Regions from separate parts of the Homo sapiens genome. Here regions 1 and 2 are each linked to region 3. The links come from fine-mapping of genetic effects on gene expression. A gene starts in region 3. Each other region holds a variant in brackets. All regions are shown on one strand. Distances are between the middles of the regions.

Region 1 (10,828 bases), 69 kb after region 3:
TTTTCTCTTATGGTAGTTTGTATTTCTGTGGGGTCGGTGGTGATATCCCCTTTATGATTTCTTTATTGCGTCTGTTTGATTCTTCTCTCTTTTCTTCTTTATTAGTCTTGCTGGTGGTCTATCAGTTTTGTTGATCTTTTCACAAAGCCAGATCCTGGATTCATTGATTTTTTGAAGGGTTTTTTGTGTCTCTATCTCCTTCAGTTCTGCTCTGATCTTAGTTATTTCTTGCCTTCTGCTAGCTTTTGAATGTGTTTGCTGTTGCTTCTCTAGTTCTTTTAATTGTGATGTTAGCGTGTTAATTTTAGATTTTTCCTGCTTTCTCTTGTGGGCATTTAGTGCTATAAATTTCCCTCTACATACGGCTTTGAATGTGTCCCAGAAATTCTGGTACACTTTGTCTTTGTTCTCATTGGTTTCAAAGAACATCTTTATTTTTGCCTTCATTTTGTTATTTACCCAGTAGTCATTCAGGAGCAGGTTGTCCAGTTTCCATGTAGTTGTGTGGTTTTGAGTGAGTTTCTTAATCCTAAGTTCTAATTTGATTGTACTGTGGTCTGAGAGACAGTTGGTTGTTATTTCTCTTCTTTTACATTTGCAGAGGAGTGCTTTACTTCCAATTATGTGGTCAATTTTAGAATAAGTGCAATGTGGTGCTGAGAAGAATGTATATTCTACTGATTTGGGGTGGAGAGTTCTGTAGATGTCTATTAGATCTGCTTGGTGCAGAGCTGAGTTCAAGTCCTGGATATCCTTGCTAACATTCTGTCTCATTGATCTGTCTAATATTGATAGTGGAGTGTTGAAGTCTCCCATTATTATTGTGTGGGAGTCTAAGTCTCTTTGTAGGTCTCTAAGGACTTGCTTTATGAATGCTCCTGTACTGGGTGCATATATATTTAGGATAGTTAGCTCTTCTTGTTGAATTGATCCCTTTACCATTATGTAATGGCCTTCTTTGTCTCTTTTGATCTTTGTTGGTTTAAATTCTGTTTTACCAGAGAGTAGGATTCCAACCCCTGCTTTGTTTTGCTTTTCATTTGCTTGGTAGATCTTCCTGCATCCCTTTATTTTGAGCCTATGTGTGTCTCTGCACGTGAGATGGGTCTCCTGACACAGCACACTGATGGGTCTTGACTCTTTATCCAATTTGCCAGTCTGTGTCTTTTAATTGGGGCATTTAGTCCATCTACATTTAAGGTTAATATTGTTATGTGTGAATTTGATCCTGTCGTGATAATGTTAGCTGGTTATTTTGCCCGTTAATTGATGCAGTTTCTTCCTAGCATCAATGGTCTTTATAATTTGGCATGTTTTGCAGTGGCTGGTACCGGTTTTCCTTTCCATGTTTAGTGCTTCCTTCAGGAGCTCTTGTAAGGTAGGCCTGGTGGTGACAAAATCTCTCAAGATTTATTTGTCTGTAAACGATTTTATTTCTCCTTTACTTATGAAGCTTAGTTTGGCTGGATATGAAATTCTGGGTTGAAAATTCTTTACTTTAAGAATGTTGAATATCGGCCCCCACTCTCTTCTGGCTTGTAGAGTTTCTGCCGAGAGATCCGCTGTTAGTCTGATGGGCTTCCCTTTGTGGGTAACCCGACCTTTGTCTCTGGCTGCCCTTAACATTTTTTCCTTCATTTCAACCTTGGTGAATCTGACAATTATGTGTCTTGGGGTTGCTCCTCTCGAGGAGTATCTTTGTGGTGTTCTCTATGTTTCCTGAATTTGAACATTGGCCTGCCTTGCTAGGTTGGGGAAGTTCTCCTGGATAATATCCTGAAGAGTGTTTTCTAACTTGGTTCAATTCTCCTCGTCACTTTCAGGTACACCAATCAGATGTAGATTTAGTCTTTTCACATAGCTCCATATTTCTTGGAGGCTTTTTTTAGTTTCTTTTTACTCTTTTTTCTCTAAAATTGTATTCACATTTTATTTCATTAATTTGATCTTCAATCACCAATACCCTTTCTTCCACTTGATCGAATCAGCTACTGAAGCTTGTGCATGCATCTTGAAGTTCTCATGCCATGGTTTTTACCTCCATCAGTTCATTTAGGGTTTTCTCTACACTGTTTTTTCTAGTTAGCCATTCATCTAACATTTTATCAAGGTTTTTATTAGCTTCCTTGCAATGGGTTAGAACATGCTCCTTTAGCTCAGAGAAGTTTGTTATTACTGACCTTCTGAAGCCTATTTCTGTCATCTCGTCAAAGTAATTCTCCATCCAGCTTTGTTCCATTGCTGGTGAGCAGTTGCGATCCTTTGGAGGAGAAGGGGTGCTCTGGTTTTTAGAATTTTCTGCTTTGGTTTCTCCCTATCTTTGCGTTGGTCTTTGATGTTGGTGACCTACAGATGGGGTTTTGGTGTAGATGTCCTTTTTGTTGATGTTGATGCTATTCCTTTCAGTTTGTTAGTTTTCCTTCTAACAGTCAGGTCCCTCAGCTGCAGGTCTGTTGGAGTTTGCTGGAGGTCCACTCCAGACGCTGTTTGCCTGGGTATTACCAGTGGAGGCTGCAGAACAGTAAATATTGCAGAACAGCAAATATTGCTGCCTGATCCTTCCTCTGGAAGCTTCATCCCAGAGGGGCACCTGCCTGTATCAGGTGTGTGTCAGCCCCTACTGGGAGGTGTCTCCCAGTTAGGCTACACGAGGGTCAGAGACTCACTTGAAGAGGCAGTCTGCTCATTCTCAGAGCTCAAATGCTGTGCTGGGAGAACCACTGCTCTCTTCAGAGCTGTCAGACAGGGTGTTTAAGTCTGCAGAAGTTTCTGCTGTCTTTTGTTCAGCTATGCCCTGCCCACAAAGGTGAAATCTATAGAGGCTGTAGGCCTTGCTGAGCTGTGGTGGGCTCTGTCCAGTTCAAGCTTCCTGGCCACTTTGTTTACCTAGTCAAGCCTCAGCAATGGCTGACACCACTCCCTTAGCCAGGCTGCTGCCTCGCAGGTCAATCTCAGACTGCTGCACTAGCAGTGAGCAAGGCTCCATGGGTGTGGGACGTGCCGAGCCAGGCACGGGAGAGAATTTCCTAGTCTGCTGGTTGCTAAGACCATAGGAAAAGTGCAGTATTTGGGCCACGGTGTCCCTTTTTCCAGGTGCAGTCTCTCACGGCTTCCCTTGGCTAGGAAAGGGAAATCCCCCCACCCTTTGCACTTCCCAGGTGAGGTAACGCTCTGCCCTGCTTTGGGTCACCCTCCGTGGGCTGCACCCATTGTCCAACCAGTCCCAATGAGATGAACCAGGTCCCTCAGTTGAAAATGCAGAAATCCCCCATCTTCTGCATCGATCACGCTGAGAGCTGCAGACCAGAGCTGTTCCTATTTGGCCATCTTGGAACAGAACTCCAGCAACACTCTGGTATAAGGTGTCTGGTGACCTCTGTTTGCGGGGGTTCTCACCCAGCTGGGAGGCATGAGATCCGAGACCCACTTAACAAAGTACCCTGGCTGTCCCTTGGTCCAACAGGTGTGCTGTTCTTAGGGGAATCCCACTCATCTGGGCTGCCTGGATTCCTCAGAGCTACCAGGGGGAAAGACTAAGTCAGCTGGTCCATGGAGACCATGACTATCCTTCCCCCTAGGGGCTCAGGCCCAGGGAGACCAGAATTTTGGCCCTAAGCCCCTTGCTGGAGTGGCTGAAGTTTTTGCAGGGAGGCCCCACCCAGTAAGGAGGGATGCATCAGGGTCTGCCCTAAAGAGGCAGTCTGGTCGTGATCTGCCACAGCTGGTGTGCTGTACTATGGGGAGTGCCTTTTGAGTCTCCCAGGCACCAGCCGGGGAAATACAGTGGGCTGGAGCTGTAGTGATGGCTACTGCCCTTTCCTCCCAGTAGTTCAGCATCTTAGGCAGCTAGCAGCTGCAGTGAGGGCTGCTGTCCTTTTCCTGGGGAGCTCAGTTGTCTTAGGCAGCAGGCAGCTGCAGTGATGAAGGCTTCCCCTCCCCCTGGGAGCTCAGTAGTCCTAGGCAGATGCCAACTGAGTAGCTGTTGAGAATCTATGCAGCTCTGCGGTTGGGACCCAAGGCCCTGGTAGCATGGGCTCACAAGTGGGATCTCATGATCCATGGGTTGCACAGATCCATGGAAAAAGCACAGATCCCCAGGCTGGGTAGCATGAACACTCAGCGCCTCCCTTGGCTGGGGAATGGGAGCTCCCCCTGCCCCATGTGGCTCTCAGGTGAGGCGATGCACCACACTGCATTTCCTTACTCTCTGTGAGTCACACCAACTGCCTAGTCAGTCCTGATAGAACCTGAGGGTACCTCGGTTCCCAGTGCAGGATTCACACACTGTCTTCGTTCTTCTTGGTGGGAGCCTTTGATTGCAGCTGCTTCTTGTCAGCCTTCTTGGCCCAGTGCACCCCCCGGCGCCCCCGCTATATAACAGTTTTGGGAAATAATTAGTGGTAATTGTTTAACATGACAATTGAGTGAGGCCTTAATAATAGTTGGGGCATAGAAGAAGCTGACCAAAATCTCTTAAAAAGAAAATCTGGGGAATGAGATATTAATAGGGGCTTTTAAAAGTTCTGACATACTCCTGAAAATTTAGAAGGAAATGTGCACGTACAGAACTGTGCACATACCCAGAAAAGACCTGAAAAAGAAATAATCTCTCTCGTCTGGCTGACCTTAAGTTTCTGTGCAAGCAGTGAGAGAAAGCTAAGCCAATACCGTAAATCATCTATTGGATCTTTGAAATAGTGTCCCCAAACACAAAAAGGACCTTTTGGAAAAGGCTGGGAGATACACTTATGCAGCATATTTAAGGAAAACTATATCCATTTATTGAATGACTACTATGCTAACTGAATAGATGTCAGTGGTCACACATAATGAAGAAAATAGATTAATATAATTAGTTGAGGAAAGTAACCAAATGCACAATAGGAAAAACACCACCAGCAACAAAGCCTGGGGAGGAGGCATATACAGTTTCCAGAGTTGTCATATTATATTATTCTAAATATATGGTTTTCAACAAGTTATGAAGCATGTAAAGAAGTAGGAATGTAAGATGAATAGGGCCTGAAGTGAACCCCCAGAAAACTGCAGCAGCCCTACAGAAAAGGAACCTGACAACAACAAAAATGACCCCCGCAAAAATGGCCCCCACAAAATGGCCCCTACAAAAACCCCATGCAAGGGTCAGCAGCCTCAAAGACTGAAACTAGGCAAACTCATGAAGATGAGAAAGAATCAGTGAAAAAATGCTGAAAACCCAAAAGGCCAGAGTGCCTCTTCTCCCCCCAAATGATTGCAACATCTCTCCGTCAAGGGCACAGAACTGGACAAAGGATCAGATGGATGAATTGACAGGAGTAGGCTTCAGAAGATGAGTAATAGAAAACTACACTGAGCTAAAGGAGCATGTTCTAACCCAATGCAAAGAAGCTAAGAACCTTGATAAAAGATTAGAGGAATTGCTAACTAGAATAACCAGTTTAGGGAGGAACAAAAACCACCTGATGGAGCTGAAAAACACAGCACAAGAACTTCATGAAGCATACACAAGTATCAATAGTCAAATCTACCAAGCAGAAGAAAGGATATCAGAGTTTGAAATGCACCTTACTGAAATAAGACATGCAGACGAGAATAGAGAAAAAATGAGTGAAAAGGAATGAACAAAGCCTCCAAGAAATATGGGACTTTATAAAAAGACTGAATCTAAGATTGATTGGAGTACGAGGAGGAGACAGGGAGAATGAAAAGAAGTTGGAAAACACACTTCATGATATCATCATCCAGGAGAATTTCCCCAACTTAGCAAAACAAGCCAACATGAAAATTAAGGAAATACAGAGAACACCATTAAGATACTCCACGAGAAGATCAACCCCAAGACATATAATCATCAGATTCTCCCAGGCTGAAACGAAGGAAAAACTACTAAGGGCAACCAGAGAGAACAGCATGGTCTCCTGCAACGGGAAGCCCATCAGATAAAAACAGACCTCTCAGCAGAAACTCTACAAGCCAGAAGAGAGTGGGAGCCAATATTCAACATTCTTAAAAAAAAGAATTTCCAACCCAGAATTTTAACCCACATGTTAGAACCATGATGCAAAGTGAAATCGTCTTCTGCTACTGTTTCCCATAAAGCTGTGTTATACCTTTTCCCCCTTGGTGCCGTGGAAATCTTGGAGCTATTGAAAAGAAATAAAACCCTCCATGCAGAAGAGGACAACAATAAAAAAAGATAGCATGTTTTGAGTAAGAAATTGTGGAAAGAACAAAAATAAATACCCTCATAGATTCTATAACCACAAGTCAGTCTTCACATAAGTGTATATATGGGCTGTGTGTGTACATGTACTTATGCACATCACAGATACATATTAATATACATATACAAAAGTAAGCAGGAAACTCTTTCCTAGAAGTTCTCAATATGACTCTTCTTTAGCCAAATCTAAGTAATATAACCAAATGCATACCAATAACAGAGAAAGGAGGCTGGATTCATTATGACTGACAATTAACCAATATTTGTTCTTTGGGTTAGGACATTCCTTTCAAGAACATATTGTTCTTCAAGAACTGAGCAAAATAGAACACTTAGCAATGGTTCTTAAAGTGAAGTC[C/A]CTGGAAAACCATCATGAGCGTCACATGGGAATTTATTAGAAAAGCAAATTCTCAAGCCCCGTTCCAAATATATTGAATTAGAAACTCTGGATGTGGGAAACACATATTGAGTTTTAACAAGATTTCCAGGTGAATCTGAGGGATACTAAAATTTGAAAACCACTATTTTACCATGTAAGAGCAGATACTGAGTTTTGATTAGTTAACCAACAGTGTGTTTATGTTATACCTAGATGTTTTCTAATTTAAGATAGTACTTTTCAGCCAGGCGCAGTGGCTCATGCCTGTAATCGCAGCATTTTGGGAGGTCGAGGTGGGTGGATCACCTGATGTCAGGGGTTCAAGACCAGCCTGACCAACATGGCGAAACCCCATCTCTACTAAAAATACAAAAATTAGTTAGGCGTGGTAGCAGGTGCCTGTTATCCCAACTATGGGAGGCTGAGGTAGGAGAATTGCTTGATCCTGGGAGGTGGAGGTTGCTGCAGTGAGCTGAGATCGTGCCATTGCACTCCAGCCTGGGCGACAGAGCAAGACTCTGTCTTAAAAAAAAAAAAAAAAAAAGATAGTACTTTTCTTCAGGACTATAATACAATAAAAGTGAAGATAGTCAAAACAAACAAAACCCAAAGCTGTAATAAACCAAGGATGAAAAAAAGATGAGATTATATAGCAGGGCATAAGATTTCAACAAATTTGAGAATATGAAAAAAAGCAGATGTGGCAAATCATTTTGCAAGACACAGGAAGTCACAAAGGGTGTCTAGACAGATATAATAAGGAGATCCAATTTATTTCTACAGTACCCCAGAGAAAAGGAGGGATTGGTGATGCCAAATTAAGGAAAGGTTAAAAATTCTATGATGGGATCAGTGTCCTTATAAGGAGAGGAAGAAGAACCAGAGCTCTTTCTCTCTCTGCCATGTGAGGCCACAGCAAGAAAGGGACTGTCTGCAAGCCAGAGAGGCTTCAACAGATGATGATTTTACTGGTTCCCTGTCCTTGGACTTCTCAAATTCTAGAACTGTGAGAAATAAATGTCTGCTGTTTAAGTCACCCAGACTATGCCATTTTGCTGTTGCAACAGGAGCTAAGACAGATGTTGCTATTGTCTGAATGTTTGTGTCCACTCAAAATTTATATGTTGAAGCCTAATCACCAATGTGACATATTAGGAGGTGGGGCCTTTGTGAGATTAGGTCACGAGAATGGAACTCTCATAAATGGGATTAATACCTTTTAAAAAAAAATGAAAGAAAGAAAAATACAATCTTAGAGAGATCCCTCGTCCCTTCCACTTTGTGAGGACCCGGTGAGAAGATGCCATGTATGTGTTAGAATGTAGGCCCTTCTGCAGACACTGAATCTCCTGGCACCTTGGTGTTGGATTTGTCAGCCTCCAGGACTATGAGAAATAACTTTCTGTTGTTTATAAGCTACCCAGACTATGGTATTTTCTTTTAGTTGCCCTAATGAACTACATGAAAAGAAGTCTAAATGTAAATAGATACTTTCTCAATTTTAATACCTCTTTGAATAATTGATAGATTAATCAAACCAAATATTAGCTAAAGCAACAGCAAAACTAACTGACACAGCCAATTAGAATGAAAATACATGACTTGTACACAACTGCAGAATACACCTATTTCTCGTACAAAATATTTATAAAAATTGGCTGTGAACCAGAAGGTCATAATGTAAGTCTTAAAAATTTCAAATGACTGTAACCATACACAGCATGTGCTTGCACTACAATAAAATTACAAATAATAAAAAGACAACTAGACATTCCCAACTGCTTGGAAATAAGGAATAGACGTAAAGGAAGAAATCATAAAAATGTCCTGGGTACAAGAGGCAGTTTAAAATAAGATTCAAAGACCAGAAGTCAAAATGAAAAAATAAAAGTAAAAATCACTGAAAATAAAAATTTCTGTGTGGTGAAAGCAACCTTAAATAAGTTTCAAGCCAGAGACACAGTAGGCAAAAGAATTGTATCTTGGCCGGGCATGGTGGCTCACGCCTGCAATCCCAGCACTTTGGGAGGCCAAGGTGGGTGGATCTGAGGTGAGGAGTTTGAGACCAGCCTGGCCAACATGGGGAAACCCCATCTCTACTAAAAATACAAAAATTAGCAGGGCATAGTGGCATATGCCTGTAATCCCAGCTACTTGGGAGGCTGAGGCAAGAGAATTTCTTTAACCCGGAGGGTGGAGTGTGCAGTGAGCTGAGATCGTGCCACTGCACTCCAGTCGGGGCAACAGAGTGAAACTCTGTCTCAGAAAAAAAAAAAAAAAAGAATTGTATCTTATTTAACATACCCACAATATATAAAGACCACTAACAAATCAGCAAGAGGGAAAAAAATCCCAATCCAACAACAATAACAAAATGAGCATTATATTTCAGACAAATCACAGAATAAAACTGTAAAATAATTAGTAATCATATGAAAAAGTCCTCAATCTCATTAACAATCAGAATCAACAAACAAAAAATAAGATAATGCTTGCCATTCACAGTAGGAAACATTTAGAATTGGTATTCTAGAATCGAAGAGGTGTGGAAAAATTAGAAATCCCATGACTTATTGGTAAAAGAATAAAATGTTTTTTTTATTGTATACAGAAAGATATGTGCAAAGATGATGACTACAGCACAATTTATAATTGATAAAACTTGGAAACAGTACCTAGATTATTAGATCAATGACACAGTTCTGTATTAGAGGGATAGAGATTTCCAAGATGCACTGTTAGGTGAAAAACACATCAGAGAAGAGCTGTATAAAATAATCCTCTTTATGTAAAAAAAAAACAAAAAAACAAAAACACTGTGTAGCTGTGTATATACTTATTTGTATGTATATAACATTTACTGAGCGCTTACTCTATGGCAAACATCATTCTAAATTCTTTATATATTTTAACTTCCTTAATCATCATAAAAATCCTCTGTGGTAGATACCATTACTACTCTCATTTTACCGATTAGAAAACAGGCAAAGAGATTGTCAAGTAATTTTCACAAGTCACAGGCACAGGAAGTAAAAAAGAAAGAATTCAAACTCAGGTAGCTCGATTTTCCTTCTTCCTTTTTCTATCTTATTTTCTCAATTTCTTTCTCCACCTTCCTCCCTTCCATTCCCTTTTTTCTTCCCTCCCCCCACCTCTCTTAGTGTGTCTTCAAATGTTTGTGTCAACCTTGGTTAGCAGGGTAATCGGGAGAACAGCACCGGGAATGGAGAGGGTGAGGTTTCATTTTTCTCCATATATGGTGTTATTGTTTGGAAGATCATGTGTTTTTGTTTGTTTGTTTGAGACGAGTCTTGCTCTCTCTCCCAGGCTGGAGTGTAGTGGCTGGATCTCGACTCACTGCAACCTCTGCCTTCCGGGTTCAAGCGATTTTTCTCCTGCCTCAGCCTCCCCAGTAGATGGGATTACAGGGGCACACCACCACACCTGGCTCATTTTTGTATTTTTAGTAGAGACGGGGTTTCACCATGTTGTCCAGGCTGGTCTTGAACTCCTGGTCTCAGGTGATCCGCCTGCCTCGGCCTCCCAAAATGCTAGGGTTTCAGGCGTGTAAATAAATTTTTAAAAAATCAGTAGAAACGTCAGTGCAATATGTATTTATTTATTGCATGAGGGTGTGCCAGTTGCAGGCACACCCTGAAAAATCAAAGGCGCGTCCTGAAAAATTAAACATTCTACACGCCTCATCATTTTCACTCTTAACTTAAAAATGCCTTTTGTTGGAAAGAAAAGGGAGAAGGGCAAGGGCTAGAGATAAAATAATCTCGACCGCTCCTCTTTTGTAGTCTAAGCTCCCTCACCTTGAAAAGCTACAGGCTTCTAAGGGATGGAGGTCAAGAGCAGAGTTAAGGAAGTTCCCGGGGTAGGCCACTCCCCGCCTGATGATTTTCCAGTTCCAGCTGGTGTCGACGTCCCAGTTCATCTGTGCCCTTAACCACCGGAGAAACGTTTCCGGAGTCTCTCCAAAGAGCAAAAAAGGGGACGGGGATGGGGAGAGGGAGACGGGACGGGCTGGGCGGCAGCTGCGCGTCGCACACGGCGTGGGGGGGTGGGTGCAGTCGCGCCCCCAGCTCGGCCGCGCTCCAGCAGCAAAGCCGGATCCTCTGAGCCCGCGCAGGGACCAGGGGAGGGAAGCCTTGTTGTACCCTTGGGGTCCAGAAACCTAAACTAGGGGCTGCTGCAGGTGTAGACTCTGAGGCTGGTCCAGG
Region 2 (10,828 bases), 31 kb after region 3:
TGTAGTAATCAAAAAGGGCAAATGTTAATATCTTTATCTGTATAGTGTTGAGTTTACGGTGGCTAGTAAGTTGTCAGCTGCATTTTTCATTTTTTTAAATTTCAGAATTAAAAAATAAAACATAAGAGTTTTCATTACTAGCTTCAAATGCTTCAATGACAGCTATTAGCAGAAAAATACTAACATGTACAAGAAAGGATTTGTATTAGTTTATTTCACCACAGTAGTATTTCATTACACATAATCCCTAAAACTCAGCAGCTTGCAATAAGTGTTTATACTCATGCTTATGGGTGTGTAGGTCAACTGTGTTTCAGTGGATGTATTTAAGCACTGACTTAGGCGCATGTTAACCTCAATCTGCTCCAGGTAGATTTGTTCTATGGCTGTAGCAGCAGCAGCTACCTGAGTCATGCTTTTCTAGTGGCTTGTCACTGAAGATCATAAGCCAGGCCAAAGCACTTAGCCAAGTTTAAGGACACTACTCATGTCATATCTGCTAACACCCGTTGTTCAAACAAGTAACATGGCCAAGCCTAATTATGAAGGAACAGGAAGTATACTGGCCCTACAGAAGGAGAGGGAATGAAATGAATATTTGATGAACAGTATTATGCTATCAGCTTCATATTAGATGTTTATTTCTAGTATTTTACAAACTATCCACTTGTACTCAAATAAAATGAGTCAAGTATTTTTAGATTCCCCACATTTATTTAGCTGAAAAGGACACTCCTCTGTTAATACAACTATATGTGTACATAGTTTTGTGAATTTCAGCTACATTCAGTCCCCACCTGCCCTCCTAGAGGAGTTGCCTTAGTCTGAGCAAAGTCCATTCAACCCTATATGATGGCCCTGGGCTTTCCTCAGGCAGAATTGTAAAATTAGGAAACTTCTACTTCGGAGCTCATTTGTTCATACACTCTTCATCTTTTATTCACACCCCACTAGTTATCCACTCTCAACCTCAACCCTTGGCGTGGGGCATTTCATCAAGTTACTTATTGGTATTTGCCTTTACTCCAAACTGCTAATCTTTTCTAGGTGCTTAGCATTTCATGTTTGGCAACTCACAGTGGGTAGTAATAAGCCTTTTCATCATATTTAATCTTTCAGTCTGTGTAAACTGTGCTTCTCCTAAAGCAGAAGTCTAATAGGAGTTTTGTTCATTAACTTCCTGATGGCTTCTAGAAATGTCATCAAAGAAACATTTCATATTTATATCCTTTTTTGCTTAAATTTTCTTTTGGGTCAATTCAAATAATTTATTAATGTCTATATTAATATAAAATAGAAATTGTTAAATATTTCAGGAAAACTTTCTGAAATATAATTTCTCCGTACAATGAAACAGTTTTTTTCATATATCTATAAATAGATACAGGAGCCTCCAGTTATCTAATGAGGGTTACATATGGTGCATAATTTTAATACCATATTTGTTTCATCTTACTTCAAATTTGAAAGTACTTTTGCTATAAGTTTCCTAAAAGTATTTAATACTTTTTTTTTTCAATTTAGATTAAATCTCTTGATGAACAGTGTGTGGTTGGCAAAATTTCCAAGCACTGGACTGGAATTTTGAGAGAGGCATTTACAGACGCTGATAACTTTGGAATCCAGTTCCCTTTAGACCTTGATGTTAAAATGAAAGCTGTAATGATTGGTGCCTGTTTCCTCATTGTAAGTCTGTTCTTATTAATCTTGATTATAGATGCTTTCTCTAGGTTCATTCTGAAATGATTCAGTAAAGTGTATATTTCAAAATGACATTTTAAAATTTATAGATTTTAAATCAGGATTCCCATTTAATCCTAGCTCTGAAATTCTATTTGATCCTGACACTCTGGGGTCACAGGTGACTAGTTTCTACCTGAAGAGTCTATGAATATTCACATGGCAAGAGGGGGACTAAGGAGATGTACTAAGGAGAGATTTTAGTCTCCCCTTAAATCAGGCATCTCCTAGATGCTTTGAGGAAGAAGTTGAAAGTAGGCATATGTGGAAAAAATTTAGTGAAACAAGGAAACTTTACCATGACTCATAGTAATTAAATTAAACCATCTAATATAGGAGTATGAAGTACAATAAGAGTGTACATTCACTCAAGTGTGTAGACCTAACTACCAAATTACAGGAAATAATTGGATATACCAGTGATTCTGAAATTGCCTTCACATTAGAACCACCTAGGGACTTTAAAAACTCCAAGGACTAGTCCATACCTCAGTTCAACTAAATCAGAAACTTCGAAGTTCATATAGTGTTCCAGGTGATTCCAGTATGCAGCCAAAGATGAGAATTATGGGGATAGAGAAAAAGTAACATTTAGAGAAAATGACTGGAAGATTAATTAAATTCATACAGGTATCAATAAATGAATAGAATTATAGAATTTATTATTAAAATGGAAAGCCAAAGGCAGAACTTATATAATTATAGAGCTTTTGTATATTTACTTATTACATTTAATTTTTTTAACAGATTTGTTACTGTGTTTCACTAGATCCCTTAGTATTTCTGCATCTGATAATTGATCTCTGTTTTGTTGTTGAAAATTCATTTGTATACTTTTGTTTTTATCTAGGACTTCATGTTTTTTGAAAGCACTGGCAGCCAGGAACAAAAATCAGGAGTGTGGTAGTGGATTAGTGAAAGTCTCCTCAGGAAATCTGAAGTCTGTATATTGATTGAGACTATCTAAACTCATACCTGTATGAATTAAGCTGTAAGGCCTGTAGCTCTGGTTGTATACTTTTGCTTTTCAAATTATAGTTTATCTTCTGTATAACTGATTTATAAAGGTTTTTGTACATTTTTTAATACTCATTGTCAATTTGAGAAAAAGGACATATGAGTTTTTGCATTTATTAATGAAACTTCCTTTGAAAAACTGCTTTGAATTATGATCTCTGATTCATTGTCCATTTTACTACCAAATATTAACTAAGGCCTTATTAATTTTTATATAAATTATATCTTGTCCTATTAAATCTAGTTACAATTTATTTCATGCATAAGAGCTAATGTTATTTTGCAAATGCCATATATTCAAAAAAGCTCAAAGATAATTTTCTTTACTATTATGTTCAAATAATATTCAATATGCATATTATCTTTAAAAAGTTAAATGTTTTTTTAATCTTCAAGAAATCATGCTACACTTAACTTCTCCTAGAAGCTAATCTATACCATAATATTTTCATATTCACAAGATATTAAATTACCAATTTTCAAATTATTGTTAGTAAAGAACAAAATGATTCTCTCCCAAAGAAAGACACATTTTAAATACTCCTTCACTCTAAAACTCTGGTATTATAACTTTTGAAAGTTAATATTTCTACATGAAATGTTTAGCTCTTACACTCTATCCTTCCTAGAAAATGGTAATTGAGATTACTCAGATATTAATTAAATACAATATCATATATATATTCACAGAGTATAAACCTAAATAATGATCTATTAGATTCAAATATTTGAAATAAAAACTTGATTTTTTTGTATATTTGATTTTTGTTTTTAAACGAAATGTGTTCAGATGGTATTTTGAGCACTCATTCAGTTAAATGATGGTACATTTGAAGCAGGATATTTCCCTGACCCCTTCACAGGACTCGAGACAGGGGTGCCTTGTTTACTCAGCCTGCCATTCTCAACTCCTCCTGGGAGGGAGTGCACAGGCAAACAAGGCAGGAACTGGAGTGTACAAGCACTGGAACTGGCTGGCCGCTTTGGCATGGGCAGGAACAAACTGTGCAGGCCCTGTGGTAGCATCCAGGTGGGGTTGCCTGCGATTCCTGAAGCCCCAGAAGATGTGTTAACAGTGCTCTTTTAGCTCTGCTGTCTGTGGACGGCTTAAGTGTTAACAGCTCAGTGGGCCCTTTGCCTTGTCATGTGGGACAGCTGCCCTCCACCAGCAAGGGCAAATGGCGAATGTGAGAGCCTTTTATATCGGCACTCATGGCTCCCAGGCTCTTGTCCGGTGTCCAGGAAAAATGTGGTCACAAAAACAAACTGAAGGATGGTAAATGAGGGGGATTTTATTGCTGATGAAAGTGGCTCTCAGTGAGAAAGGGAGCTGAAAAGGGGACAGTGGGGTAGGTGATCTTCCCCTGAAGTCTGGCCCTGTCCAGCTGGATTCTTCTCTGAAGTTACACTGTCAAGCTGTCCCTCTGAAGTCAAGCTGCTTCTCTCCAATGTCCAGCCATAGTCTCCACTCCTCTCTGACTGAGTCTTGGGTCTTTATAGGCACAGGATTGCAGGCAGGGCGGGCCATGGGCAGTTTAGGAAAAGGCAACATTCAAGTAGGAAAACAGGGATATAAATTCTCACTTTGGGCCGGGGTTTCAGGCATTTCAGCTTGAGGGTAGGGTTTTCACTGGGGACTCACCCTTTTCTACCTAGAATTTCTCTGCCTCCTGTCTCCATCATATTTAACTGACTTTTCCTTTCAAATCTCCTTTAAAAATGAGCAAAGGTACATGACACTTTGTAGTAAAATCTGTACCAGTGTTGGAAACTAGGATTTCCACCTGTCAGAAGCTTATAAGAATTTAGTTAATCTCTTTTGTAATGAAGATTGAGTTGAAAGATGACATGAACAACCCACAATATTCTTCATGCAATGGAAAAGTATGCTTAAGCAATAAGGGCATGTGGAAGAGTCCCTCTTTCATATTCAGCACAATTCTTGTAACAGCAGCTCTCCTCATGGTGTTAGTGCCCTAGACCTCAATAGCTCCAAATGGCAAGCGGTGAGAACATTAGTATGCAGGAGATCTTCAGGAAAAGTCAAGTCTAGATGATCTCCCACAAGTCTAAACAATTCACCAGATGCCAAGTTCCAGTGATGAGGTGTACCCATGGAACTCAGAGCATGTGCTTGGTACAGATGGCATGCCAAGAAAAGTGGAGGTACTTGCATAGCTGAATCCCAATGGCATTGTTATGCCAGTTACAGAAGAGGGTGGGCATAGGATTTCCAAACTGGCCATAATGTGCCAAAACTAACCCAAAATAAGGCTTAGAGTACTGACATTATCTCTGTGACAGCTAAATTTTACTTTCATTATTTCTCTCTCTCTCAACAGGATTCTGGATCTTTGGTTAAGCAAAATGAAACTAAACTGATCTAAACATTTCTTTCTTCAACTCTGCAAAGAAGATCTGAGCAAAACCCCACATATCTTCTGCAGAACCTATTTAAATACTAGACAAATATCTTCTCATTACATAATTACATACAGAAAATAATCACACATGAAAAATTCGATATTTAATTAAGAAAATACCAGGAATTGTTTTTCAAAGTTTAATTTGTAATCTCAATGAGATTTGAGGAAATGTTGCATATTTTTTTATTTCTACCATGTGAGTTATAACAGTGAATGGAAAGTCACTGCGTGTCCCTGACTAGGGAAAATATTCAGGAGGAAAAGCTGCAATGGATGG[G/C]GCATGGAGGTATATTTTTGATCTTGGGAAGGAAGTTCTAGGTAGGTGGTCAGTGAGGAAGGGGGAGAAGGAGGGAGGAAGAAGGAGGGGAGGGAGGGGAGGAAGACAAGATTAAGGGATGTCAGTACCTCTCCTATGTACCTCTTGGGGGAGGGTTGAGGAGTGAGGGGAGTGTAAGTGAAAGTAGAGACAAGGCTGGGAGAGGAAAAAACAAAAAGCACCAGCCACAGGCAATTAAATTGCCAGAAAGTCAGTGTCTGGGCTCCCGGCATCAAGTTAGCTAGCTACTCTATGGATAAGTACTGAAGCTTTAATTGCATTTGGGCTCAAAAACAACAACTGTAACTTTAGGGTAACTAGAAAAGCCTCTGTAGAGAATCGCTGCCATCAGTTAAGAATGGAATGATTTAAAATGTCTCTGGGCACAATGAAGTGCTCCTAGAGCTTAAAGTGCCAGAAAAGTGTACAGGGTTTCCCTCCATGTCCTGCCTCTCTCCTTTACTGTCTCTAGCCCAGCATACACCGCCTGAGTTTCTAGGGCCATGTTCCTGCACCTGGTACTGTCTCCTTCAAGCTGTGTGTTCCTCCTTGTGCCTTAATTTCCCTTAGTTGTCAATAGTATCGTTGTCAATTGATTATGTTATCTACCTCATAAGGTCAGTATGAAGATTCAGTGTTCTAATGCAGGTTCAGAGACCTGAGCAGGTTCCTGCAATAGAACCAGTGTAAAAAATGAAAAGGGCTATGTGTTGGTAAAGATCAATGGTTTTCAGAACACAGAGAAGTGTCTCAAAGCCAGTGAAGAATATTTGGCCTAAAGTAAATTTCTGTATTGTGATTTGAATAGCAAGCAAAATCCATTTAAACCCTAGCAAGAATACTATCTCCTCAAAAAAAAAAAAAAAAAAAGTCCATGCAAGATGCCAAGCTAGGGAATGATGCTCATCTCACAGAAGTGTAGATTAAGGGAAATTAAGGCACAGGGAGGAACAGAGTCTCTGGCTTCTGTGTTAGAGCCTTTTTTAATCTTAGCTTTATAGTGTCAAAATGTGGCAAGCTATTTTAAGAGAGGAACAATAGCTGGGCGCAGTAACTCATGCCTGTAATCCCAGCACTTTGGGAGGCCAAGACAGGTGGATCACCTGAGGTCAGGAGTTCAAGACCAGCCTGGCCAAAATGGTGAAACCCTGTTTCTATTAAAAATACAAAAATTAGCTGGGCATGGTGGCAGGCATCTGTAATCCCAGCTACTGGGAAGGATGAGGCAGGAGAATTGATTGAACCTGGGAGGCGGAGGTTGCAATGAGCCGAGATTGCACCATTGCACTCCAGCCTGGGTGACAAGAGTGAAACTGCTTCTCAAGAAAAAGAAAAGAGAGAGAGAGAGGAACAATAATCTGGGCCCCTGAAACCAGATGAAACAACTGACAATACAGAGTCTGAACTCATGATTTACAAACTGAGAGGGCCATGGAATGATAAGGAACAAGTACAACTGGTCACAGAGCTCTGCACTTAACAACCCTCCACACACATACACACACCAAGCATTCAAGTTAAACGTTAACCTACTGTTAATGTTTATATGGTAGAAAACATCAGATTTATGCCAAAATGCAGATTATAAATCTACCCACATTGAATTCTGAATAGATTTGGAAAATTGATCTGCTTGCCTACTAAGTACAATTTGTTTCTGCCTGTGGATTCTGGGGGTTTTCCATCATTAACACATTGAGGTTATTCTGTCTGGCAGTGATAGGGAACAAACATTGGCCTATTTATTTCAGCAAAGGAGTTAGTTGCTAGGAAACATTTCAACTTTAGTCAGGTATTGCCAATAGACTGCAACCACCTGAAAATATCTTAGAGAAATTCTCGGTTATATTGACTTTACAGAGTTAATTAGATCTTAGTCTACCACCCGGTCCACTCGGGCTTCTATACCAAAACACCTTAGACAGGGACAGTGTAATTATAAAGGACTAAAATTTGTTAATTATAGTTCACGAAGCTGAGAAGTCCAAGATCAAGTCACCAACAGATTCTGGTGTCTAGTGAGGGCTGCTCTCTGTTTCTAAGATGGCACCCTGTTGCTGCATTCTCACATGGCGGAAGGCAGAAGGTCAACAGGGACCCAACCGAGCCCTTTTAAAAGGTCACCAATCCAATTCATGAGAATGGTGCCTTCATGACTTAATCACATCCTAAAGGCCCCATATCTGAATACTGTCAAAATGGGTCTTAGTTTCCAACAAATGAATTTGGGGGCACACATACCTTTAAACCATGGCTCCTACTAAGCACATTTCTGTTAAATCATACTGCCTGAATTCTTTCCCCGTTATTGCAAGTCACAAGCAGAAGATAATTTACTCGCAAAATTATTTTTTTTGCAAATCTATTTCAGTTTTTATGAATAAAGACAGATTCACTCAAATAATTCACATAAATGTATTTGTAAACGTTATACCTGAGGAGGAAATGAATATAAAAAAAAAAAGTTGATTGATTTAAGGGCACTGAAACTGCTCATCAATTATTTAACAAGTACATACGGAGCTTCTACACTGGGCCAGTAGTTACGCTAGGTACGATGGTCTCAATAAGCAACAAAAATTATTTTCTACAAGATGCTTAAGGTCAATTATACATATGGAATGTTTGATTATAGGATCCAGAGTACTATGGAGAGGGGTAGTAGGGACACTGAACTCAGTTTTAATGGTCAGGAAATTAGGGGAAGTAACTTTTAAACTAAGAAAGTTTGCTGGACAAAAGGCAAGTGAGATTATTTCAGGCAAAGGAAAGAACATAAACAGAAGTCACCTCAGGGGTCTGAAATGTGGCTAGGCCACTGGTTTTGTGTTCCTTCGTGAGTGAAAGACATGCAGGGGGTAGGACATCTAAAGAGTGGTTAGATCATACAGTGCCTTAGCCACATTAAGAAGTTCAGGTTGGGGCCAGACATGGTGGTTGACACCAGTAATCCCACCACTTTGAGAGGCTGAGGTGGGAGGAGGTAGGAAAGATCAAGTGTCCTTTCCTACACATAGTTCTCTCTCAGTCTCTAGGAATCAGGTGGTGGACTTCTCTAAAGCTGCACTTTTTTTTTTTTTTTTCCCAAGCAGCATGGCTTGCCTGATTGTTCTCTAGGAACTAGTCTAGCCTTTTCAGATGAGAAAGTTACTTTGTCTACACAGAAGTTTTCTCATGGTGATTTGGTATCTCCCTCATCACCAAAACCTGGATACATGGTAGATGGCCTAAAATTGTTGAATTATCTATCTTTCAAATTTACAGTGTGAATCGATTTACGTTTCAGGTCCTGAAAGCTATCAAAATAACCAAAGTCCATTTATCTGAGGAGATGGTATTAATAATTAGTTGTGTAAGTAAAAAAGTCAATAAAAGATGAAGCATATCTGTAAAAAAGATGAATATATTTAAAATAAATTAAGGGTGAATTTTATTATTTTGTTATTATTATCATATCATTTATTTATTTATCAATCTTTTAAGTAGGGGCAAGGGCCAAGTGTGGGTCTACTATTCTGCACTGTCTTTCTTCTATAAAAATACACAGTTTATTTTTGTTTCAATAGAGCCAGAATTCTAAGACACTTTCAAAGGTATCTTAGTGTAGACCAGTCAATTTTTACCATGATTTTTCAGTCATTCATATTTGGCTCACCCTTTACTAACTCAGTAGCAATCAACTTTACTGAGTAGACTTAATAAGCATTTTAAAGGAATTCAGATTAACTTACATAGAAACAATCTTTTATATTAATATTTAATCAAAGCAAGTAAAAATATTTACTTTCTGTAACTACAATAATCTTTTGTATAAACTGATTTACAAATAAATACAAATCACTTTTAGTTGGTGTAGAACTTTTGAGAGAGTAGACGTACCCTAGAACTAGAGAGTCAATAGGGACCCTCTTAATGTAATAGTCAAGTGTATTCAGCATAATTTGAGCTAATAATTAGGTTTTACAGAGAGAATAGGAAATGTCAACCCAAGGAGTTGGGTAAATTAAGATCAGTTAAGAGAGTATCTATATTGACTTTCTTTAATAATTATTTTCTGACAAGGAAAACAATAGTCACCATCAATCCAGTAGGTAAAATAATATGACACTTTTTTATACGATTCATGGCTCCCTCAAGAACTTATCTGCTGCAAAAAGTAAAGGAGAAAGCAGGAAAGAAGAAAGGAAGGGATTAAATGAAAAGGAAAGAAGAAAGAAAAGGGGTTTTTGTTTGTTTGTTTCATTAGAAGTCAACTAAAAAATATAGAAGAAATGACGAAGGTAGGAAATGACCATTTGACAGTCATCATCACAATAATTTTATTCCAGCAAGGAAACATCGGTGGCTGCTAAAATTACTGATGAACATTTAAGGAAAAGCAATATGCAGTACTTACATTGTCTCAAAGTAGCTTCTTATAAGATACTTATTAATTTCAAAAAATAAAATAGTGAGTAACTTTACATTTACTGCATGATACAATTCAGCTGAGCTGCCTGCCATGATATGAAAAAGATCTCCATTCCTCCAGTTTCCAATAACAAGTTTTTTTCCACTCATCTGAACCTTCACCTGAAGTGCATTTAATTCTGTATTTCTACCATCGGTCTCTTCATGTTGATGTAAATCTTCTCTAAGATGATCAACATTTTCTTAGAGAAAATACATACCATGCTCCTCACTTCCTTTTGTATACTTATCAGTCATTAACATCCATATCTCTTCAGTCTTGTCTTAGTTGGCACAGGCTGTTACAACAAAATATCATAAGCTGTCTTAAACAGGAGACGTTTAATTCTCATAGTTCTGGAGCCTGGGAAGTTCAAAATCAAAGTACCAGCAGATCTGGTTTCTGGTGAGGGACCTCCTTCTGTCTTGGAGAGAGCCACCTTCTTATTGTGTTCTCACATGGCAGAGAGTCCAAGCCCTGGTCTCTCTTCCTCCTCTTATAAGGACACTCATCCCATTATGAGACCCCCACCTTTATAAACCTAATTGACTTCCAGAGGCCTTGACTCCAAATACCACCACATTAGGGGTGAGAGTTTCAACATATGAATTTGGCAGGAGAGGTACACAAACATTTAGTTCATAACATTCCACCCCTGGCCCCCCATCATTCATGTCTTTCTTGCATGTAAAATGTATTAATTCTATCCCAATAGTAGCAAAATCCATAACTCATTCTCTCATCAACTCTGGACTTCTAAGTCTCATTTAAGAAACATCTAAATCAGATATGAATGAGACTCAAGGTACAATTCATCCTGAGGCAAAATTTCTTTCCAGCTGTGAGCCTGTGAAACCAGATAAGTTACGTACTTCCAAA
Region 3 (10,828 bases):
TGTAAATAACAAATTTTAAAGGAAAATAATTATTCCTTCAGTTCAATAAATATTTATTTATTACATGTCTCTATGCCAGCTGCAGGGCTGGAAAAATAAACATTCTAAACAAATCTGGTTGGTTTGATTTCAAAACATATTTAAAATATCATTTGGTATAGTCCCATTTATTTATTTTTGTTCTTGTAGCCTGAGCTTTTGGTGTGATAGTCAAGAAATCTTTGGCAAGGTAAATGTCAAGGAGCTTTTCTCTTATATTTTCTTCCAGGAGTTTAACGGTTTGAGGTCTTACATGTAGGTCTTTTATCCATTTTGTTTTTGATTTGTTTGTGTGGTGTAAGACAACAGTTCAATTTCATTCTTTTGTATGTGAAAATCCAGTCTTCCCAGCACCATTTATTCAAGAGACCATCCTTTCCTCATTGTGTTCTCTTGGGGCCCTTGTGAAAAATTAGTTGACCGTGTATGTTTGGATTTATTTCTGAGCTATTTTGTTCCATTGGTCTACATATCTGTTTTTATGTCAGTGCCATTCTGTTTTATATAAATTTGTAATATAATTTTTAATTAGGAAGTGTTATTTCTCCAGCTTCAATTTTTTTCTCAGAATTGCTTTGGCTATTTGAGGTCTTTTGTGGTTTCATACAAATTTGCATTGAATCTATATATTACTTTGGGTAGTATGAACATTTTAACAATATTATTTCTACATCAAACCAAAAACTTCTGCATGGCAAAGGAAACAATCAACGAAATGAAATGGCAACCTATAGATTGGAAAAATATATATCTGCAAATCATGTTCTCAGAAAAGGGTTGAGTTTCCAAGATTTATAAAGAACTTATACAACTCAATAGCAAGAAAACATATAACCCAATTTAAAAATGGGAAATGGACTTGAATAGACACTTCTTCAAAAATGACATAAAAATAGCCAACAGGTATATGAAAATGTGCCCAGCATCACTATTCATCAGAAAAATGCAAATCAAAATCACTATGAGATACTACGTCATACCTGTTAGGATTGGTATTATCAAAAAGACAAGAGATAACAAGTGTCGGCAAGGGTGTAGAGAAAAGAGAATCCTTGTACACTGTAGGTGGGAATGTAGGCTGGTGCAGCCGTTATGGAAAACAGTACGGAGGTTCCTACAGAAATTAAAAGTAGAACTACCATATGACCCAGAAATCCCTCTTCTGGGTATATACCAAAAGCAAATGAAATCACCGTCTCCTGAAGATAGCCGCACTCCCATGTTCATTGCAGCATTATTCAGAATAGCCAAGATAATAGAAATAATCTAGGTGTCCATCAATAGACAACTGTATAAATAAAGATACATATATTCCATGTTGTGTGTATACACACACACAGATACACACAAAATAGAATATTACTCAGCCTTATAAAAGAAGGAAATTCTGCCAGGTGCTATCACATGGATGGACCTGGAAGGCATTATGCTAAATGAAATAAGCCAGACACAGAAAGAAAAATTTTGCACAATCTCACTTATATGAAATTAAGAAAAGGTCAAATATATACAATAGTGGTTTATAGCAGGGGTCCCCAAGCCCCAGGCCACGGACCTGCACATGTGAGGGATCTAGGTGCATATTTCTTAGGAGAATCTAATGCCTGATTATCTGAGGTGGAGCTCAGGCAGTGATGCTAGCATCGGGCAGCAGCGGCAAATACAGATTAACATTAGCAGAGAGTTTTGACTGCACAGAGACCATAATAAATACATTGATTGCAGACTCATATCAAAACCCTATCAGTGAGGGGCAAATGACAAGTGACAATTAAGCTGTGTCTGGAGGCAGGCTTTATAGTGGAAAATTGATGTACTTCAATTGTACAGTTGCATCTGGTGGCAGGCTTTAAGTCAGAATCCAACACTTATTTTAGTCTGTGCATGGCCCACCCATTATTTTACCACTTCCATCTGCACCTCTTTTCCACACTGTGCACTTGTCTTAGTCACAGTTTTGCTAAGCCCACAAGCTAACCCTTGTGAAAAACAAGGGTTTTTGTTAAAAAAAAGTTTTTGTTAAAAACATCAAAGTGAGTGAAAAACAAACATCACTGGACAGCTTCTTTGAAAATGGGGAAAAACCCAAAGGTGAGATAACAGAAGACTCTAAGACTGCTAACAAAAAGAAAGCTGCACTTAAAGGAAAATGCCAAGAGTCCTACTTAAATTACAGGTTCATTGCAACAGGTGGTTCACATTCTCCAATCCTGCTTTGTATAATATGTGGTGACCAACTGCCCAATGAAGCCATGAAACCTGCAAAACTACTTTGCCACATGGAGACCAAGCACTCTGCATTAAAAGACAAGCCTTTGGAGTTTTTTGTTTTGTTTTGTTTAAAAAAAAAACAGAAACCATGAAACCATGAACACAAAGAACACATAGAAGCAATTATTGAAGGCCACCATGTCATCAAATGTGTCTGCACTGAGAGCATCATTCATAGTGGCTAACTGCATTGCTAAAGCTAAGAAGCCCTTTACTATTGGTGAAGAATTGATCCTGCCTGCTGCTAAGGACATTTGTTGGGAACTTTTAGGAGAGGCTGCAGTTCAAAAAATAGCACATATTCCTCTTCTGGCTAGCACCATAACTAGATGAATTGATGAAATAGCAGAGAATATCGAGGTACAATTGTTAGAGAGGATTAATGAGTCACCATTAATCCTCTCTAGCAATTGGTATGCAATCCAGGTTGATGAGTCTACTGATATTGACAACAAAGCAACAATGCTTTTTTGTGTGTGATATATTTTTCAGGAAGATGTGCACAAGGATATATTATGTGAATTTTTGTTGCCAATCAAAACCACAGCTGAAGAACTATTTGTCTTTGAATGATTACATATCAAGAAAACTGAATTGGTTATTTTGTGTAGGTATATGCATGGAAGGAGTGGCTGCCATGACTGGATGGCTTTCTGGTTTCACTACTCTGGTCAAAGAGACCAGAATGTGAGTCTATGCACTGTGTCATCCACAGAAAAATGCTGGCTAGCTGAAAAATGTTACCTGAACTTAACAATGTTTTGCAGGATGTGACAAAAATAATCAACCACATTAAAGTACATTTTCTTAACTCACATCTGTTTGTGCAGCTCTGTGAGGAGATGGACACTGGGCATGCATGTCTTCTCTTATACACAGAAATGAGATGGCTTTCTAAAAGTAGATCACTGGCTGAAATTTTTGAATTATGAGAGCTGCTCCAGAGATTTATTTTAGAAAATCAGTCACCATTGGCGGCACATTTCAGTGACACAGAAAGGGTTGCAAAACTTGCTTACTTGTGTGATGTATTCAACTCGATCTATGAACTCAACTTGTCGCTTCAGGAGAGAAGGACAACTGTGTTCAAGGAAGCAGATAAATTGGTTGCATTGAAAGCCAAACTGGAATTATGGGGGCAACGAATGAACATTGAGATTTTTGACATGTTTCAAACATTAGCAGAGATTTTGAAGAAGACTGAGCCAGCAGCTTCTTTCTCTCAGCTGATGCATGATCACCTATCTTAGCTTTCAAAAGAGTTCGAGCATTACTACCCAACCACAAAAGAACCCTGAACTGGGAATGAATGTATCCATGACCCATTTGTGAGTAAGTCAGGTGAATCGATTTTGTCCGTACTAGAAGAGGATCAATTGCTTGAGATCACAAATGATGGTGGCCTTAAAAGTATGTTTGAGACAGCTTCAAATCCCATGTTCTGGATTAAACTCAAGGTGGGATATCCTGAGATTGCCACAAAAGCACTGAAGAGTCTGCTTCCATTTCCAACATGCTATCTTTGTGAAGCAGGATTTTCTGCAGTGACAGCAACCAAAACAAGATTACGGAGTAGACTGGACATAAGCAACACACTTCTGGTGTCACTGTCTCCCACCGTTCCCAGATGGGACCTTCTAATTGCAGGAAAACAAGGTCAGGGCTCCCACTGATTCCACATTATGGTGAGTTGTATAATTATTTTATTATATATTACAATGTAATAATAATAGAAGTAAAGTGCGCAATACACGTAATGTGCTTGAATCATCCTGAAACCGTCTGCCACCCGGCCCTGGTCCATGGAAAAATCCTCTTCCGTGAAACTGGTCCCTGGTGCCAAAAAGGTTGGGGACCACTGGTTTATCCAGGGTCATCCAGGTTGGAGTGGGGTCAGGAGAAATGGGGAAATTTAGGTAAAAGTATACAAAGTTACAAACACGTAGGATGAACAAATGGGAAGACCTAATGTACAACATGAGGGCTATAGTTAATGATAGTGGTATTCAGGATTTATGCTAAATAAGTAGATTATAGCTGCTCTTGCCCCAAGGGGGGAAATGTGTAATTATAGGAGTTGATGGATATGTCATACAAATAACTTAAATACACAGAATAAAAACTATTTTAGTTTAAAAAGGAACAATATTTATAAAAAAATAAAGTGAGCTCGAAAACATTCAAATAACTGCTTAAAAATTAAAAAGTAATATCACATAATTTAATAGAAGGAAAGAAAGAGCAAGACAGCAAGAAAGAAAAGGCACCATAAAGAAAAACAATTTTGGCCCCTCCTCATTTGTAGTCTTAAGCTGCCTCTACTCCCTCGCCTTGAAAAGCCACGGGCTTCCGAGGGATGGAGGTCAAAGCCAGAGTAAAGAAAGTTCCCGGGGGAGGCCACTCCCCAGCTGATGACTTTCCAGTTCCAGTTAGTGTCGGAGTCCCAGTTCCTCTCCTTAACCACCGGACAAACGTCTCTGGAGTCTCTCCAATGAGCAAGAAAGCAAGTCGGGGGTAGGGGAGGGGCCTCACACCAGGGGGTGGGCGCAGTCCCTCCTCCAGCTCCTTCACCCTCCAGTAGTCTCGTGGGTCCCCGAGCGCCAGCGCGGGAACCGGGAAAAGGAAACCGTGTTGTGTACGTAAGATTCAGGAAACGAAACCAGGAGCCGCGGGTGTTGGCGCAAAGGTTACTCCCAGACCCTTTTCCGGCTGACTTCTGAGAAGGTTGCGCAGCAGCTGTGCCCGGCAGTCTAGAGGCGCAGAAGAGGAAGCCATCGCCTGGCCCCGGCTCTCTGGACCTTGTCTCGCTCGGGAGCGGAAACAGCGGCAGCCAGAGGTGCGCGGGCGGCTTTCTCTGCCGCCTCCTGGGGACTTGGGCGCGGGAACTGCGCGGAGCCTGCGCTGGGGCCAGGGCCGGGGTCAGGTGTGGAGGGCAACTTGTGGGGAACCGGCGCGAGGGCCCGCAGGTTGTGTTTGCTGCTCTGGGGGTGGAGGATGTGGGGTGAAGGTTGGGGCCAGAAATGCAAGAGGCCTCTGAAAGGGACCCTGGAAGTGGAGCAGGTACACGGCAAGGGGCCCCAGGCGGCCCAGCGGCACCCGGGCTCACCCCAGAACCATTCGAATGACAAGGGGTGCCCTGCCTGAAAACGCCTTGCGGGGCTCAGCTTCCCCTTAGCTACACTGCTTTACAGGTAGAGAGCGGCCCTGAATCCTGGGTAGAGTCTGGGCTCAGGAGCATGTGCCAGCGTAGTGGGGCTATTAGAAGGAATGGTTAATACAGCCTGCAAGCTGTCATTTATCAGTAAGTATTCAATGAAGTCCGCCGGAGCCCACATCTATGCTAGGCCCTCTACAATACCAGCTTAGGAAAGATAGTGGCGGTATCTAGCACGGTTCCTAAGACCATTAGCTCCAGTCAGGCTCCCCGACTTTAAATTCGGCCTCTACTGCTTCACGTCTGTGGACTGTCAGCCACTTTCTTCTTATATATGTTCTTTCCATTGCCTCATCTCTGAAATTGTGTAACTATTAAATGAGCTACAGAGTATTAATGTAAAATTCTTAGAGCAGTGCCTGGCGCTACAGAAAGTACTCAGTGAAAGTTAGCTCTTATTATTTTAAATATTTGACAAAGTTCCTGCTTCTCCAAGCTGATTCTCTGGTTCCCAGGTGGTTTCATTCATGCACTGTTATTCCTGGAAGTCTTGGCATGGCCACTTCCCAGTTCCAGGAACAGGCAGTCGTTGTTTTTTCTGGCTTATCACATTGAGATACATGGTTACTACAAGTGACACTTAAACGTGTCAGACAGTTTGGGGGCTCCCTTCTTGAACTTTTTCTAAGAGCAAACCTTTGTCTTAATGCCACCCTGTTTACAACAATAGTAGGGCTTTGAACAATGAGAAAATGCGGGGAAATGAAAAAGACATATAAAGGGAAAGAGTGGATTTATGCAATTGGATAGAAAAGTGGCATGTAAAATAGCTGGTTTATAGATCAAACTGCCTTTAGATCTGTAAAGGAGCTTAGAGTACATACAGGTGGAGAGACATCAGATGTGTGTGAGCAGACCCTTATGTACTTCTCCATCTTCATCTCTAAGAATGTCTCCCTCTTTTGCTCTGTAACCTCACTCGTCTTCCTTTACTTGAATGAGGGACGTTCCTCCAGCTCAGGAATTCTACCTATGGAGTTCCCTCTATCTATGATGCCCTCCAACACCCCACCCACCATACCTCCATAGACTAGTTGATTTGAGACTTCCTTCATCTCCTAGTCTGACTTTTCTTAAACCCCCTACCACCATCTAAGTTAGTGCCCCATAACCCTTTCTTATAGCAACATTAATTTTATTTATAGCACTTAGAGTATTTTTAATAATATATTTAATTCTTAATTGTCTGTCTCCCCTAGTGTCTAGGTATTGTGCTCTAGTGCCTGGTATAGTGCCTTGCATGCTCTATGCCTTCAATTAATTCCTTTAAAACCACACAAGCTTTATATTTAGTGAATATTTATATAGGAAGAATTTCTATGTGTATATATGTGTATCTGTGTATATACACACTGTATTGCACTGCCCTGAATAGTGCTAAATTAAAAAACCAAAACACTTTTTAATCAGAACTTAATAGTTGCACTCTTCAATTTTCCATATGTTCTTTTAAGAAGTGATTAGAAAAAAATGATGTCTCCATATGTTGTCTGCTGCTGTAAAAGAATACCTGAGACTTGGTAATTTATAAAGGACAGAAATTTATTTCTTACAGTTCTGGAGGCTAGGAAGTCCAACATAATCATGTGTTGCTTAAATACAGGAATACATTCTGAGAAATGCATCATGAGGCAATTTTGTGGTTGTGAGAACGTCATAGAATTTACTTACACAATCCTGGATACTATAGCCAGCCTACTATTTAGGCTGGGGTGGTGGGGTTGGGGGTGTTGAGGAGAGTCAGATTGAGAGCTGAGGGAAGTCTCAAATCAACTAGTCTATAGACGTGTGGGTGAGTGGGTTGGTGGAGGGCATTATAGACAGAGGGAACCTCACAGGTAGAAGTCCTGGGCTGGAGGGAACTTGGCTCATTCAAGAAAAGGAATGACCAGTGAGGTGGCAGATAGCCTACTAGACCTAGACTGTGTGGAATAAGGTGTTGCTCCTAGGCTAGAAACCTGTATAGCATGTACTACTGTAATGAATACTGTATGCAAGTATAATACAATGTCAAGTATTTATGTATCTAAACATAGAAAGGGTACAGTAAAAATAATCTTATGGGACCACCATCATATATGTGATCTGTTGTTGTGGTGCATGACTGTATGGAGGCACCAGCATCTTGTGAGGGTCTTCTTACTGCATCATCCCATGGTGGAAAGTGGAAGGGCAAGACAGCAAGAGAGAGTGGAACTTGATTTCCTTACAAGCCTACTCTGGCAATAACAAACCCACTCCCAAGATAACGACATTAATCTATTCATGAAGGTAGAGTGCTTATAAACTAATCATATTTTATTAGGCTCCACCTCCCAACACTGTTGCATTGGAAATTAAGTTTCCAACACATGAACTTAGCTCACACATTCTAACCATAGCACCTGGCCTAGTTAAAGCTAAGTGGCACAAGAGTAAATTGAAATTCAAGCCTTTTCTGTCTTACATAAGAAAGATAACCTTAAAAGAGTCTTTTAACAAATTTCACTGAAGGATGTCAGTCTTCCTTTTTTCAGTGAATTAGAGACATCGGTGCAAAGAATATGAATTATTAATCATCTTAATTCAGCTAGTTAGCAAGCTGTATCACATTTATTAAAATCACTTTTATTTCTATGGGTTTAGTTTCACCATTTATTAGGAGGAAAGGAAGCAAATTTGTGAGGGAGCTCTGGGTTGTCAGGAAAGGCTTTTCAGAGTAGTAAAGCAATCAAATGAGAATAACTGATTCAGTATTTGTTTCCTTTGTCTCTTTGGTTTACTTTTTAGTTTTGTAGAACACTTGATCACTACCATCTCACTTGGTCCTAGTTGATGTATCATCTACATTTTTATTCAAGGTTTAATATAAAATGCTATAAAAGGCTATCCTAAACTGGTTTTAAGCATATTTGTTTTGTTTGTTCAGCATAAAATACACAAGAGGATTTTTATGGAATGGCTCCTTGTTACAAGGTACTTTGCATTTATAATCAGCCACAGTCACCTCAGTTTCATCCCGTATCTTACAAGTATGATGTGCTGTATACTCAAAGCCTCACCACCTGCTTGCCCCACCCATTTGCTTAAATGTATCAATTTTTTCTAAGCTTAACTTTTACCAAAACTGGAGTTCAACAGATGAATATTTTTCCTTCTTAGATGTTAACTAAACATTTTTAAAGGTACAAAATTTATGTACAAACATAACCCAAATGACATGGAAGTTACTTGATTTGTGACTTACCTCTGTAATGTTCCCCTGGCCTACTTGAAATTCCTACCTTTCCTCTAGTCTAGTATCTTATTCTCAGTTATTCGGAGGAAGTTAGGGACCTAGAATTCTTGTTTTCAGAGCAGTAGAATTTTGCTAACATAATTCAAAACATTTATCCCTATCTTGGGGCTTGAAGAGAATGTGAAATGCTTTATCTTCTGTTTTGAGGGAATGAGGGAAGGAGCTTGTTCTTAGGCAATTAACAAGTAAATTTAAATAAATAATCCAAATCTGGTGTGGGTAAACAAATTTTAGTTTTAGGAACTTTCAAAATTAAGTATGCTTCCCCTTTGGGTTCCAGATTTTACAGTAATACTTTTTGAAAGCAGTAAGATAAAAATTTCAGGACCTCAAGAGATGGGTCAAAAGAGTTTCACTGTAATATGAATTTTGAAGCCAGAACTGGAAATCCCCTGTGCTGTGTCTTCCTCTTCGTGGTAGTAGAGGTTACAGTTATCAAATAGTCCAGAGAAGCAATGGGAACTTATGATTTCTGATAGAAAAATTTTAACAGAGATGTACTTGTATGCAAATAATATATGATGCCTCAGTTTCCTCCAAAGTCTTAGTTAACAGAGTTAGAAAAAATCAGATTATATTTGAAGTTCTGTGTTCATACTGGAGTAATTATTATTCCAATGGTACAATATACAACATAACTTTATTACATTTTTTGGTACAGCATAAAGATGATTTTCCCTTTCTCTGAGTATTTCTGAAATTTAAAATGAAATAAGTGTGGTAGAAGCCATTATTTATGAATTATCATGCTAAATTAATTAACTCATTAATTCATTCAGGGCACACCCAGTTATTCCCCAAACTGAGTGATGTATTTCTGGGAATAGACTTATTAAGCTTGAGAAAACCCAAAGGATCATTATAACAGCAAACAGGAATGTAGGCATCCACATAGTGGATGACTTTAGTGACCTGGCACACAGTGCCTTATCTACTTGGCACATGTACAGGTACAAGGAACACTTAACATTTTGCACCAGAGCTTATTACATACCACTTTCAATGCTTGAGATATTATATAAATGCTAAAATTCTAAAACCTATAGTAAAGCAAAGACCCAGATTTTATACTGCAGTAGTTTTGCCAGTAAGTCTCATCCTCACTAACTTATCTTTTAAGATTAAAAATAATGTAACCAAGTGGGAAGAAAAAGAGCAAATATGAACAAATTGTCATTGTTTTAGAATCTGCTTCTTTTCCTTTCCGGTATTTCTGTGCAAGGAGAGAATGATCTCTGACCTTGTGAAAGGCAAATACCATGTGTATTCATGGTTGTTATTCATTTGGCAACGACTTGAAACTCATGACACTCCCTGCTGAAGATCCTCCACCTATTCTTAACAGCTGGGCTCCCCAGCTCCTGGATCACCAACCAGTACCAGTCTGTGGCCTGTTAGGAACTGGGCTTGTACAGCAGGAGCTGAGCAGCTGGAGAGTGAGCAAAGTTTCATCTGTATTGACAGCTGCTCCCCATCGCTCACATACATTACCACCTGAGCTCAACCTCCTGTCAGATCAGCAGTGGCATTAGATTCTCATAGGAGCAAGAACCCTATTGTGAACTGCATGTGTGAGGGATCTAGGTTGCGCACTCCTTATGAGAATCTAATGCCTGATGATCGGTCACTGTCTCCCATCACCCCCACATGGGACTGTCTAGTTGCGGGAAAACAAGCTCAGGGCTCCCACTGATTCTACCTTATAATGAATTGTATAATCCTTTTGTTATATATTACAATGTAATAATAATAGAAATAAAGTGCACAATAAATGTAATGCGCTTGAATCATCCCAAAACCATCCCCTGCTTCACTGGTCCATGTCTTCCACAAAACCGGTCCCTGGTGCCAAAAAGGTTGGGGACCACTGTTTACCAGGATGCATAGCATGGGTTTATGAATTCCCTATCTTTGCAGCACATCCTTTATTTCTGGCTTGCATGGGACTTGAAAGCCTAAAACAACTAAATGCTAAGAAAAATTATTTTTAAAATGATGACAAAAATATTTTCTATTTCAGATGTATA

The links. PIP is the estimated chance that this variant, and not a neighbour inherited with it, causes the effect.
Region 1: its variant is fine-mapped to the expression of PLSCR1 in fibroblasts (GTEx, PIP above 0.99).
Region 2: its variant is fine-mapped to the expression of PLSCR1 in whole blood (TOPMed, PIP above 0.99).

Annotation. Positions count from the first base shown.
Region 1 is chr3:146,469,622-146,480,449 of GRCh38, reverse strand. It overlaps a transcript of PLSCR2 not described here. Among named protein-coding and RNA genes, the nearest start is that of PLSCR2, 5.5 kb to the right of the region's middle. The variant C/A (reference allele first, on the strand shown) is at 6,582.
Region 2 is chr3:146,507,864-146,518,691 of GRCh38, reverse strand. PLSCR1 (phospholipid scramblase 1) reads left to right here. Exons shown (of 9, transcript NM_021105.3): 8 at 1,525-1,686; 9 at 2,591-3,512. The coding sequence ends at 2,647. Among named protein-coding and RNA genes, the nearest start is that of PLSCR1, 31 kb to the left of the region's middle. RefSeq lists an enhancer at 4,039-4,540. The variant G/C (reference allele first, on the strand shown) is at 5,461.
Region 3 is chr3:146,538,785-146,549,612 of GRCh38, reverse strand. PLSCR1 (phospholipid scramblase 1) reads left to right here and starts at 5,006. Exons shown (of 9, transcript NM_021105.3): 1 at 5,006-5,146. RefSeq lists an enhancer at 4,677-5,156.